4 linked regions of the Homo sapiens genome follow. The protein of the gene in region 3 purifies or fractionates together with the protein of the main gene of each other region. This does not show direct contact. Each region holds a gene or a part of one and is shown on either strand. Other genes may lie near its edges.

Region 1 (3,500 bases), on a different chromosome or scaffold from region 3:
AATCCCAGCACTTTGGGAGGCTGAGGTGGGTGGATCGCTGGAGCTCAAGAGCTTGAGACCAGCCTGGCAACATGGCGAAACACCGTCTCTACAAGAATTAGCCGGGTGTGCTCATGTCTTTAGTCCTAGCTACTTGGGGTGCTGAGGTAGAAGGATTGGCTTGAACCTGGTAGTTCGAGGCTGCAGTAAGCCGAGATTGCACCACTGCAATCCAGCCTGGGCGAGAGTGAGATGACCTTGTCTCAAAAAAAAAAAAAAAAAAAGAAAGAAAGAGAAAAAAGAAAAAATTCACCGTCATACAAACTAATTGACTAGGTTTCGTTCCCTGCTATATGTGTTCATAATATTTATCACTGTTTATTGAAATTATTTGTTAAAAAGTTGTCTTACTTGACAGACTCTGTAAGAGTCATTTTTTAGATAATGAATTCACTGTATCTGCAATTCAAATAACTGTAGAATTTTCCTTACTGGGGCTAGGCACAGTGGCTCACACCTGCCCACCGCACTTTGGGAGACTGAGGCAGGCGGATCACTTCAGGTCAGCAGTTTGAGACCAGCCTGGCCAACATGGTGAAACTCTATCTCTACTAAAAATACAAAAATTAGCCAGGTGTGGTGGGGTGTACTGGTAGTCGCAGCTACTTGGGAGGCTGAGGCAGGAGAATCACTTGAACTCCGGAGGTAGAGGTTGCAGTGAGCCGAGATCACACCACTGCAATCCAATCTGGGTGATACGCCGAGACTCCCTCTGTTTCCAGTTTTTAGTCTTCATTAAGATGATTTTGGTCCCTGAGCTTACCAAAAAAAAAAAAAAAAAGATTGTTTCATTGTTATGTTACTAAATACCTTAAATTGTGTTAGAATAATGGGATCATGATTGATGTTGAACAACTAACTTGACATGATAAAATTCTCTTTAACTACTGTGTTATCTTTTACGTACAGCGGAAAGAACACCCGGAAATGAAAGGCCACCAAGAAGAAAGGTAAAAAGTTCGTATACTCTACTATCTTAATGGTTTCTGGAGTTCTAAAATGAGGCAGATATTCATTATAAGGCAGAAGGGTGTTACCAGAGAAGACTTCACAAGGTCATGTTTACTGGGTGATTGCCATAGCCCTGGCAGAGGTTAGTCTTTGTTTTTTGTCAGTACCCAGAGAATAGATGATCTTTGAGAGGTTGACTTACTGAGGAACTCCCAGGAAACAGGTGTATAAACCAGAATATGGAACAATTTCTAATGCTATCTTAAGTCCTGCAGCCTGGGACTTATGCATTAATATAACTAGTTTGTTTATTTATTTATTATTATTTATTTGAGATAGAGTTTCCCACTTGTTGCCCAGCTGGAGTGCAGTGGTGCAGTCTTGGCTCACTGGTACCTCTGCCTCCCGGGTTCAAGTGGTTCTCCTGCCTCAGCCTCCCAAGTAGCTGGGACTACAGGCACACACCTCCATGCCTGGCTAATTTTTTGTGTTTTTAGTAGAGAGAGGTTTTCACCATGTTGGTCAGGCTGGTCTTGAATTCCTGACCTCAGGTGATCCACCCGCCTCAGTGCTGGGATTACAGGCGTGAGCTACTGCACCTGGCCTCCCAAAGTGCTGGGATTACAGGCATGAGCCACGGCACCTGGCCGTATTCTAACTAGTTGAGTCTCACCCTGTGGACATTTGGATTCCTTACTTCTATGGAGGAATCTAAACGATAAGGTCAGTTGGTGAGCAATAGTGTCAGAACAAAGACACATTAGTTGGAAGTTAAATGGTATCAAATTACAATCATTAAGAGCAGTCATTTCCTCAGGACTATTACCTGCTTCTAGGATATTGACTACACTGGTTTTGATATTGCGTAGGCGGGGCATGGCTGAATTTTGCCACTATAAACCCTACTTTTGTATGTGGGCCATCCCCTCGTATTTGATGCCATTAAAAATAAATGTTAATGTGATTGACTAAGCTATCAAGTACTAGTTTTTCTCTGGGCCTAGGAGACATATAATTTTTCATTATATATTTATTCAATCAGTTTAACCCTAATTATTTTTTCCTTTTCTTTTTACTTCCAAGTACTTAACGCCCCCTCATGTACTACTGACTTCCATCAAAGAAGTTCGAAAAATTATTTCAAAATGTATTGTTAATTCACCCTTTCATAAGCAAAATGTAAAAATTTTGCTAAAAGTCCAGTTAAAGAAATTTTTAGTGAAGAAAATGTGATATTAAAGGGGATCCTTGCCAGAGGGTTTGAAGAAACAGTGCAGAGATATTTAGGTAGATTTAGTGTTGTTTTTAAAATTTGGACAGCAGCAGCATTGTGGGAGGTCAGATTTTACATATGTTGCAATTTTGCTTCTATTTCTTGTAATTGTAGCTTTTTGCTTTAAAATTAAAATTCTTTAAGAATTAAAGAATGTGTTTATATTTAAAATACTAAACGATTTTATATTTCTTAGGCACTACCTCCTAGGACAGAGAAAATGGCTGTTGACCAGGACTGGCCTAGTGTTTACCCAGTTGCAGCACCATTTAAACCCTCTGCAGTACCTCTTCCTGTTCGAATGGGTTATCCAGTAAAAAAGGGCGTGCCCATGGCAAAGGAGGGAAATCTAGAACTTTTAAAGGTAAGACAAATTGCTGATTCATTGGCTCAGACTTACATAGAAATAAATGCTGATCTTCCCCCCTATTTCTGCTCTCTTATGCTTCACCGTTCAGTGTATAGCAGCTTAGTGTATTTTAATTTAAATGTTAAAAATAATATAATAGGTTTATTATTATACAACACCAGATAATAATAGGTGTTGTATTTTGATTATCAATGGTAAAGAATACTCAAAGAATCCTAGGCATTTAATAATGTAATTAGTTGGCTGGGCGCAGTGGCTCACGCCTGTAATCCTGGCACTTTGGGAGGCCGAGGTGGGCAGATCACTTGAGGTCAGGAGTTCAAGACCAATCTGGCCAACATGGTGAAACCCCATCTCTACTAAAAACACACAAAAAATTAGCCAGACGTGGTGGTGGGCACCTGTAATCCCAGCTACTTGGGAGGCTGAGAAAGGAGAATTGCTTGAACCCAGGAGGCGGAGGTTGCAGTGAGCCGAGATGGCGCCACTGCACTCCAGCCTGGGCGATAGAGTGAGACTCTGTCTCAGGAAAAAAAAAAAGAGTAATTAGTCAATCTTGTGGCTTCCCTTGTGACCTTTTTCTGTTGTATCTCTTCTTTTTGGAGATGGGGGTCAGTATGTTGCCCAAGCTGGTCTTGAACTCCTGGGCTCAAGAGACATGCCTGCCTCAGCATCCCAAAGTGCTGGGATTACAGGTGTGAGCCACCACACCCAGCCTATCATATCTTTTCTATATTGCATCTTTCCAGTGGAATTAAGAAAAATGAAATAACCTAATTTGAGATTAAGAATTGGGAGGTGAAACTTCCAGTTTAAAAAGAGGAATTTAAATTTTTTCTGTCCATAAAGGTAGAATATTATTTAGTA
Region 2 (3,500 bases), on a different chromosome or scaffold from region 3:
AAGTGCTGAGATTACAGGCGTAAACCACCGTGCCTGGCCCAAGAGGATCTTTCTAACACCCAGAGGGACTCTGTCCTCCCTGCTCAAACTCTCTGTCAGAAGGGTCAGCAAAGTCCCAAGCTGCTCAGCCTGGAGTGGTGAATGCCCTGGGCCTGGCCAGCTGCTGTCTCACCCCGTATCTCCACCACCCTCCTCCCGAGCAGGGATGAGCAAGGGGGCACAGGGAGGGCTGACCACAGCTACCTGTTTGCCCAGCAGCACCAGGTCCACCTTCTCCTTCTCTGCCAGCTTGGCCAGGACCCGAGCCACCTGCAGGGGACCCAAGCGTTCTGCTTCTGCTGGGGGCACCTCCACGTGGATACCTCGGTCTGCACCCATGGCCAGGGCGGTACGAATCGTCTCCTGCCAAGGACAGAGGGGCTTGACTTGGCTGCTATCCTCAGGGGGACCTAGGAGTCTGGCTCGCAGCCCCTCCTTCCTCAGACCCAGGAGTCCAGGGCCCCATCCCCTCCTTCCTCAGACCCAGGAGTCCAGGCCCCCATCCCCTCCTTCCTCAGACCCAGGAGTCCGGGCCCCCATCCCCTCCTTCCTCAGACCCAGGAGTCCGGGCCCCCATCCCCTCCTTCCTCAGACCCAGGAGTCCGGGCCCCCATCCCCTCCTTCCTCAGACCCAGGAGTCCGGGCCCCCATCCCCTCCTTCCTCAGACCCAGGAGTCCGGGCCCCCATCCCCTCCTTCCTCAGACCCAGGAGTCCGGGCCCCCATCCCCTCCTTCTTCAGACCCAGGAGTCCAGGCCCCCATCCCCTCCTTCCTCAGACCCAGGAATCCAGGCTATCAGCCCATCCTCCCTCAGACCCAGGGGTCCAGACTTCCAGCCTCCTCCTCCCTCAGACCCAGGAGTCCAGGTCCCAGCCCCTCCTTCCTCAGACCCAGGAGTCCAGGGCCCCATCCCCTCCTTCCTCAGACCCAGGAATCCAGGCCCCCATCCCCTTCTTCCTCAGACCCAGGAGTCCAGGGCCCCATCCCCTCCTTCCTCAGACCCAAGAGTCCAGGCCCCCAGCCCCTCCTTCCTCAGACCCAGGAGTCCAGGCCCCCATCCCCTTCTTCCTCAGACCCAGGAATCCAGGCTATCAGCCCATCCTCCCTCAGACCCAGGGGTCCAGACTTCCAGCCTCCTCCTCCCTCAGACCCAGGAGTCCAGGTCCCAGCCCCTCCTCCGTCAGACCCAGGAGTCCAGCCCCCTCCCCAAGACCTTCATCACCTGGCACTGTGCAGGCCCACAGCTGACGGCGATGACCTCCTTCACCAGCTTCTTCTCCTTGAGCCGCACAGCCTCCTCCACCGCGATCTCACAGAAGGGGTTCATGGAGTGCTTCACACCATCCGTGACCACACCGGTCCTGTCAGGCTTCACTCGGATCTGCCCAGCAGGAGGGGAAGGGGTGGGGTCAGGAGGAAACAGGCAAGAAGGTGGGGGCCTCAGCGCCAACCCTCTCCCAGGCTGGATGAGGACAACGACAGCCTGGAAAGGGGCAGGGCCTTGTCCGGGGTCACACAGCTCCAGGGACAGAACTGGGTTAGAGTTTGTAGGCAGGGGCAGGTCACCCTGTCTCCTTCTCTCATCCAGCCATTCCTGGGTACCAGGGACATCTGACTTGATCATCCCTACTGTTGTCACTGCTCCTCTCAGGCCTGAAAGAGTGTTTCTCAAATTTACAGTATTTATGGTAACCCACAGTGAGAGGTACATTTTACTGTATCTCCAAGTGTATATAAATACATAATACACTGATACATAAATACAAATGAGGAGAAGAAAAGGAAAAACCAGTTAGGTAGACAGTTAAGGGTGGTCCTCAGAGGAGCAGCCTGCCTGAAAAATCACAGCTACAGGCAACAATAGAGCAGCCTGGGGAAAACTCAAGCTGCCCAGCACAGAAGCCTTTTGTTCTTTGCGTGACTGACAGGCTCCCAGGAAAAGTTCCCTCCCCTTTTCAGGCACGTACATGGTGGTCTCTGTGGGAACTTGCACGGGGAGGGGCGGAGCTTACCTAAAACAAACCCACGGTTACAGAAACAAGAGAAGCGGAGCTTTGTGCTTGCCTAAAGACGTACCCACAACTACATAGATAACGGAGAGTTATGCAGATAGCTTTACAGATAAGATACTCAAACAGCTACAGAGATGAAAGGAGTTTCTTATAAAAGCTTTTGGTGTCTTTTGCTGTGCAGAAGCTCTTTAGTTTAACCATCAGAGTGAACAGGCAACCTACAGAATGGGAGAAAATTTTTGCAGCCTACTCATCTGACAAATGGCTAATATCCAGAATCTACAATGAACTCAAACAAATGTACAAGAAAAAAACAAACAACCCCATCAAAAAGTGGGCGAAGGATATGAATAGACACTTCTCAAAAGAAGACATTTATGCAGCCAAAAAACACATGAAAAATGCTCATCATCACTGGCCATCAGAGAAATGCAAATCAAAATCACAATGAGATACCGTCTCACACCAGTTAGAACGGCGATCATTAAAAAGTCAGGAAAGAACAGGTGCTGGAGAGGATGTGGAGAAAAAGGAACACTTTTACACTGTTGGTGGGACTGTAAACTAGTTCAACCATTGTGGAAGTCGGTGTGGTGATTCCTCAGGGATCTAGAACTAGAAATACCATTTGACCCAGCCATCCTATTACTGGGTATATACCCAAAGGATTATAAATCATGCTGCTATAAAGACACATGCACACATATGTTTATTGCGGCACTATTCACAATAGTAAAGACTTGGAACCAACCCAAATGTCCAACAATGATAGACTGGATTAAGAAAATGTGGCACATATACACCATGGAATACTATGCAGCCATAAACAATGATGAGTTCATGTCCTTTGTAGGGACATGGATGAAGCTGGAAACCATCATTCTCAGCAAACTATCGCAAGGACAGAAAACCAAACAACGCATGTTCTCACTCATAGGTGGGAATTGAACAATGAGAACACATGGACACAGGAAGGGGAACATCACACACCGGGGACTGTCGTGGGGTGGGGGGAGGGGGGAGGGATAGCATTAGGAGATATACCTAATGCTAAAGGACGAGTTACTGGGTGCAGCACACCAACATGGCACATATAAACACATGTAACAAACCTGTACGTTGTGCACATGTATCCTAAAACTTAAAGTATAATAATAAAAAATAAATAAATAAATAATTTTTTAAAAAAAAAGCTTTTGGAATCAACTGTAAAAATGGCAACCCGCTTGGGCTTCCCTCTCCTCTGTGGAGAGCTTTCTTCTTTTGCTTATTAAACTTTCGCTCCAACCTCACCTTTTGGGTGGTCTATGCTCTTTAATTCTCTTGGTTGTGAAACGAGCTCGGATAACACCTTAGACAACGTGACCAGTGACCCTGACCTATTTCACAAATGCCACTGCAGTGTAAGGGTCAGTGACCAATACTGACCCTGCCTACACACACACCATA
Region 3 (3,500 bases):
TGTACCAGCATAGTGGTTATGAGTGCAGACCAAGGAGTGGGAAGGCTTGGGTTCAATTCCCTTTTCACCACTTATGAGGCATGTGCATGTGGGCAGTTCATTAACTCTCCAAGTTTCACTTTCCTCATCTGCAAAGTGGGGATAATATTATAGTAATTTCGACTTCATAACATTGTTATGGAGATTAAATGAGATGATACACGCAAAGAATTACTACTGAGCCCAGAGGATAGTAAGTAGTTAACACATGTTATTTTATAATTATTATCCTACCTTAATTGGTGAATTTGTATCACTTCAAAACAGGTTGTTATATAAGCCAAAATTAGAGATCTTGTAGTTTTCTAAAAAGTCAGTTTTACAGTCAAATATTTTTATTTCAAGATAGTTTCCAACTCACTCTAAAATTCGCTTTTTCTTTGTTTTGTTTTTCGTTCAAGGACAGCTTCACTTTAGAGACTTCCCAAATGAATGCTTTCCTAATTACTCATTTCTATGAATATCCATGGCTCTGTAATATATTTTTCTCATTGCTATTAAACTTAAGTGTGATTAAACACTATGCAGCCACAAAACACTTAAATTGCATTTTCTGTGTCTTATTTATAGCCTGGATCTACACTGGGAATTTTGGAACTGCATCAGACCCTCAGCCTAAAAAGAAACAGAGTCTATGTCAACATAATTACTCTAAGGGAGTGATCTACAATGAAAAAAAAACAACTTTTTGAGTGAGTCTATCTAGAGTATATAGAATCCTATGATGAAATGACATTATACCTTAAGGCTCAGTTTCTCTTTTGTGTTTTGTTTTTTACCCTAGAAGTTTATAGTCTAGCTTAGATAGAGCAGACAAACTAATGAAAGATTAGATGGCTGCCCACTATATTAATATTTCAAATCAATTATTTTTCCTGTCTATGAGAAAGCAAAGATGCTGACTTACCATTGAAGGACCTGCATTGAATTGCTTTCCCTCACTAGGTGACAGATTCACAATTACTTATGCCTTTCTTTTCACCTGGTTCCTTGTAATGTCTAGTGAGGTACTTGTCCATATTTATGTACATAGCATGTTGCCATGGGACACAACTTTGCATTGATCCATCAAACAGTTCCTGGGAGGCTGCTGTGGGTCAGGAATTACTCAGTCATATCAATGACCCCATAGGGCCAACACCACCCTCTACTTTAGTGTGTATGTTAGTACACACCAATGATTGCATGACCACCTTTTAAAACTTGGCTGTCCTCTATTTAGCCATCTGCAATCCCAACCACCTGTGCTTCCTAACACCACTGGCTCTGTTTACATGCATACCTAAATGTGAAGACATGCCCTCATTTCCTCCTCTACTTTCATCCTCCACCTACTCAGGATTGACACACAACAGGGAGACACTGGGGCCTGGCCAGATGATTCTGAATAACTGCAGAGAGAAATGGCTTAGGCAAAAGGCCACAGCAGGAGAGGGGGAGAATTACAAGTGACATAAACAGGAATAAAGCAAGCACTAAAGAAAGCGGTGATGTTTTGGATGACAATTGTAAAAACTTTCATAGTCAGTTTTATTTGGGGGAACAGATGCTGAGGAGAGGGGGTATCTTATGAAAACTAATTCCTGATCCACTGAGGCGCTCCCTGACAGCAGCACTACATGGAGGTAACATTTAATTTAGAGAGTGTATGAGAAAATAACAGTGTCTGTAACGTAATAAAAAAGGGGAGTAAGAACTAGGGTGTTTCAATGATTATGGGGGCAGTGGGCTTTGAAGCCAAATCAACCTTAAGTACACTTGCCACTTGTTACACTGTGATCTTGTGAAGGTTACCTAATCTCTCTAGACATTATTTCCCACATTTATTAGATAGAGATAATATTTGAGAATATTTTTGTGAGAAACTAATATGATAAGCACAATGCCCAGAGCACAGTAAGCACTCCACAAAGATTAAAGCCAATGTTTTTCATATCAAACAGGGGGAGCCAACACTCAGGTAGATATTTACAAGGTATTTCATACATCTCTAACTGCCTCATTGTGGTATGCCAAATATCCTCATCCCCAGGACCTGTGAATATTTCCCACACACAAGAAAAGAGACTTTACAAATACGATTACATTAAGGATTTTAAGGTGAAGTGGTTATTCTGGGTTATCCAGGTGGGTCCAATGCAATCATAGGGGCTCATATAAGAAGGAGGCAGACGGGTTAAGAGTGGGAAGAGCTGATAGATGTAAGCGGAGGCCAGAGCAATGCAGGATCATGAGCTGAGGAATATGAGTGGCCTCTAGATGCTGAAAAAGGTAAGGAAAATTATTTCCTAGAACTTCCAGAAGGAGGAACATAAATGAAAATGTGTTGTTTTAAGAAAAATATGAAGAAATATAATTTAAAACTAAAAACAGAAGATCACAATACAACTTCAGATTTCTTTTTTTTTTTTTTTTTTTTGAGACGCAGTCTCTCTCAGTCGCCCAGGCTAGAGTGCAATGGCGTGATCTCGGCTCACTGCAAGCTCCGCCTCCCAGGTTCACGCCATTCTTCAGCCTCAGCCTCCCCAGTAGCTGGGACTACAGGCGCCCGCCACCATGCCCGGCTAATTTTTTTTGTATTTTTAGTAGAGATGGGGTGTCACCGTGTTGGCCAGGATGGTCTCGATCTCCTGACCTCGTGATCCGCCCATCTCGGCCTCCCAAAGTGCTGGGATTACAGGCGTGAGCCACCGTGCCCAGCCAAAACTTTAGATTTCTGATCTCCAGATGCATAAGATAATAAATTTGTGTTGTTTTAAACCACTGAGTTTTCGGTAATTTGTTACAGCAGCAGTAGGAAACTGCTACACTTACAAAGGTGAGAATCGAGTTTTTACAACAGTCTGCCTGACTGTTTAGAAAGAAAGTAGTAGTAGGGAGTGGCGGAGGCTGTGGCTCACACCTGTAATCCCAGCAGTTTGGGAGGCCTAGGTGGGCGGATCACTTGAGGTGAGGAGTTCCAGACCAGCCTGGCCAACGTGGTGAAACCCCGTCTCTGCTAAAAATACAAAAATTAGCCAGGCATGCTGTTGTGTACCTGTAATCCCAGCTACTGGGGAGGCTGAGGCAGGAGAATCCCCTGAACCGGGAGGCAGAGGTTGCAGTGAGGTGAGATCACGCCATTGCACTCCAGCCTGGGCAACAGAGCGAGACTCCGTCAAAAAAAAGAAAAGAGAAGTAGTAGTAGTAGGGAGTGATTAAAAAGTAGAAAAGGGCCGGGCGCGGTGCCTCACACCTGTAATCCTAGCACTTTGGGAGGCTGGGATGGGAGGATCACTTGAGTCCAGGAGTTTGAGAGTAGCCTGGGCAACATAGGGAGACCCTGTCTCTACAAGTGTGGTGGCGCATGCCTGTGGTCCCAGCTACTCTGGGCTGAGTTGGGAGGATCACCTAAGCTGGGAGGTGGACGCTGCAGTGAGCTGTGATTGTGTCACTACACTCCAGCCTGGACAACTAGAATG
Region 4 (3,500 bases), on a different chromosome or scaffold from region 3:
AAATCATCATTCTCAGTAAACTATCGCAAGAACAAAAAACCAAACACTGCATATTCTCACTCATAGGTGGGAATTGAACAATGAGAACACATGGACACAGGAAGGGGAACATCACACTCTGGGGACTGTTGTGGGGTGGGGGGAGGGGGGAGGGATAGCATTGGGAGATATCCCTAATGCTAGATGACGAGTTAGTGGGTGCAGCACACCAGCATGGCACATGTATACATATGTAACTAACCTGCACATTGTGCACATGTACCCTAAAACTTAAAGTATAATAATAATAAATAAATAAATACATACATACATACATAAATAAATAAAGAGAAGACTTCTGGATTGGAAGGCAGAAAATGAGTGCAATTAGGGAGGGAATGCAGGGGGATTTAAACTGAATATTAATGTTCTATTTCTTAAGCTGGTGTTATAAAAATGTATAAGTACTGCATATATTTTTAAAATGCTACATAAGCATATTTTGTACATTTTTATATGATAAATTTTACATTAAAATATTTTAAGATAAAAAATGTGTTTTTTATGTTTGATCTTTTTCCTTTACTGTCTAAATAAGTTTAAAAGGCTTCTTGACAAAGTAAAAGACAGGAGCCTAATTGTTAAAATGAACTGTAGTAGTATCTCATAAAGTTCCCGGAAAACTTGGGATAAATACTTTGATAGCTTGCTAGAAGTTGAAAAATTAATTCACCTCGTGAAAATATGAGACTAAAATATTTCTTAGGTTCATTTCTGCCTGGAATCAGGTGCCTCAAACTCGTAGTTTTTTAATTTTGTCTGAATTCCCTAGGAATATGACAGATAATTTATTTCTTAATTCTTAGTACTTTTTTTTTTTACTTAAAGCAGGAAAAAGTGAGTTCATTTCTAAATTAGTGTTATTTATTGAGGTCCTACTCTTTGCCAAACCCTGGTCTAAGCACTGTGGTAAAATGATCTAGATCAAGTCCTCCTGCTAGTGGAGGAACTGACAATGAATGAATAAATGCATAATGTCTATAGTGGAAGTACTGTGAAGACAAATCAAGTAGATTAACAGCAAAGAGAATTAATTATCACTGGCCAGGCAGCTGATATTCCAGACTGGTGGCCAGGGAGAGCTTCTTTGGGGAGGTGACACTTGGTAGAGACCTGAATAAGGTAGGAGAACGAGGCAAGTGGAGATAAGAGGGTTTGTGCTCTGTTCAGAAGGAAGAGTAAGTACAAGGTGCTGAGGCAGCTACAGGCTTGCCGTGTTTGGGGAACAGGAGGGTGGTGAGGCTGGAACAGCACATGAGGCAGAGAGTGATAAGGATGGAGATTGAAGAGAGGCAGGAGTCAAATTCATGCAAAGTTTGAATTTTACGGAACGCAGTGGGAAGCCTATGGAGTTTTGAATAAGGGTGAGAGTGATGTAATTTGAGTTGTCTTTTGTAACTATCACTGTGGCTGCTGGGGTGGTGGTTCTTTTTTTTTTTTTTTTGCTAGGAAGCCAAGAGCAGAAGCAGCGAGAGAGGGTTTAGGAGGCTGTTGTGTTAATTTAGGAGGGAATGGAAGGTGGCTAGACCAAGGTGGTAACAGTGGAGTTTGAGAGAAGTGGTTGAAATTGGTGTTATGTTCATGGTAGAGCCAACAGGATTTACTGGTAGATAGGTAAGGGGTGTAAGAGGAGTCAAGCATACTGTGTAAGATGAATGAAGCACAGGCCTTATCAAAGAGCTCTGTTTGGAACATGGTGCATTGGAGACGTTCATTAGACTCCAAGAGGAGGTGCTTAGTGAACGTCATATCAGGGGAGAGTCTAGAGCCAGGATAGAGACTTTGGAGGCATCAGCATATAGTATTTAAATCTGTATACTAGATGAGTGTCTAGGGGCTGAGTGCAGAGCACCTCGTTGACATTTAGAAATTGGGAAGAGAAGGAGCAGCAAAGAGAAATGGGAAAGAGTGATTAGTAAGTAAAGAAGAAACCCAGGGGCATCTGGCAATTTGAAAGAGAAGGGAAATTTTAAAAAGAAGGGAATGATCAACTGAGTGTGAAGAGGTTGGTAATACAGGGCCTGGAATTGAATCATTGGATTTGCAAAAACAGAGGTCATTGACAACTTTAAGAATTATTCCTTTTTGGAATAGAGGGGATGAAAATCTCATTAGATTCAAGAAAGAACCAAAAAGTGAGGAAGTGGTGACTACGAAATGTAGAATTCTTTCAAGTGAGTATAATAGCTAGTTTGACAAAACCAACTCCTTCCCCATTTTTAAATTTCAGTAAAACTAACACTCAGCAACAGCTGGTATGTAGACACATCAGAAAATTATGTAACTAGAATATAAAAGAAGCCTATTTATTGACTTTGCCTTGCATTTGCATATATTTACCCCAGTTTTCTAGATCTGTATGTAAAACACTCAACTATCATTGTTGGTATTTACAGTGATTTTTGAAATACATAAGCCGTTCCAAAATAACTTTGTATATTGATATGTGGCTCAGAAATATCTTTCATATAATTTATCTTAGTTCCTATAGTAAGATCCTCATTCATCAGTTATTCCCTAAGTGCATTAATCTTTTTTCTAGCAGGCAACTTGGTTAATGTCTTTAAAGTAGCCTTTATTTAAGAAAGGTTTTGTTTCAAACCATAGTTGAAATAAATGTACCAAAATTTTCTATTTTCTATAGCAGCTTTTTGTAAAACGCACTTAGTCTGTTTTTCCACTAGGGGGTGCGGTAGGGATGAGAATGGAGTTCTACATTCACATGGCTCCATTTTGTGCAGTGATGGAGTGTGGCAATGGATGCTTGTTTTAATTCCCGGAAATAAACCGTCAAGAATAAAAGAACATGATGGCAAGACAGTTTTGCTTTATGTTCTTCCCTCCAAAATTGGTAGTATAATTAAAAGGCAATAAACATAAATAAAAATCAATAGCATTCCCTAGATCAGTAATGTCAGAAGAGTAGATAGGAGCAAATGTAACATTCACAGTAGCAAGAGAAACCACTAAGTACCTATAAATAAACCTAAGAAAAAAAATAAAGCTTTTATGGAGAAAATAATAAAACTATTGAAGGAGGTCGAAGAAAACCTCAGTAAATGGAGACATATACTATGCTCATGGGTGGGAAGATAGGGCTTGTTGGTTTTCTCCAAATTTACTGATTCTGTGAATCCCATTTAAAATCTCAACAGGTGATATAGGTTATTGAGGATAGCTGAATGATAGATTTTTGTAACTATTTTATGTAGGAAAACAATACATAGACCATTTTATGCAAACTGTTTTTTCAGGGGAGAGGGAAAGAAGGACTATTTTTCACATTCAATATACAACCTGTACATACAAATAGTAAAATGAAAATAGTCTATCCCTCAGGCCATAGAACTTTCAGTTCCTCAAATGCACAAATTTTCTTTTGTCACTGGACCTTTGCTTGTCTGTTTCCTTAGCTCCCCTTAGACCACTTTGACTAAGTCCTGCTTGCCTAACACTGCTTA

The links. Proteins that work in one complex are often made in the same cells at the same time.
Region 1: the proteins of PRSS35 (region 3) and MRPS35 purify together in Homo sapiens (co-immunoprecipitation; one large-scale study listed by IntAct). This does not show direct contact.
Region 2: the proteins of PRSS35 (region 3) and ETFB purify together in Homo sapiens (co-immunoprecipitation; one large-scale study listed by IntAct). This does not show direct contact.
Region 4: the proteins of PRSS35 (region 3) and OXCT1 purify together in Homo sapiens (affinity purification with mass spectrometry; one large-scale study listed by BioGRID and IntAct). This does not show direct contact.

Annotation. Positions count from the first base shown.
Region 1 is NC_000012.12:27,713,832-27,717,331, forward strand, and holds part of MRPS35 (small ribosomal subunit protein mS35 isoform 1 precursor), read left to right. Parts: intron 1-948; coding exon 949-989; intron 990-2,459; coding exon 2,460-2,627; intron 2,628-3,500.
Region 2 is NC_000019.10:51,352,889-51,356,388, forward strand, and holds part of ETFB (electron transfer flavoprotein subunit beta), read right to left. Parts: intron 1,955-3,500; exon of another isoform or gene 1,751-1,954; coding exon of another isoform or gene 1,421-1,750; coding exon 1,262-1,420; intron 403-1,261; coding exon 244-402; intron 1-243. UniProt on the Homo sapiens protein: Heterodimeric electron transfer flavoprotein that accepts electrons from several mitochondrial dehydrogenases, including acyl-CoA dehydrogenases, glutaryl-CoA and sarcosine dehydrogenase.
Region 3 is NC_000006.12:83,515,534-83,519,033, reverse strand, and holds part of PRSS35 (inactive serine protease 35 precursor), read right to left. Parts: intron 1-3,500.
Region 4 is NC_000005.10:41,842,926-41,846,425, reverse strand, and holds part of OXCT1 (succinyl-CoA:3-ketoacid coenzyme A transferase 1, mitochondrial isoform 3 precursor), read left to right. Parts: intron 1-2,768; exon of another isoform or gene 2,769-2,845; coding exon of another isoform or gene 2,846-2,851; intron 2,852-3,500. UniProt on the Homo sapiens protein: Key enzyme for ketone body catabolism.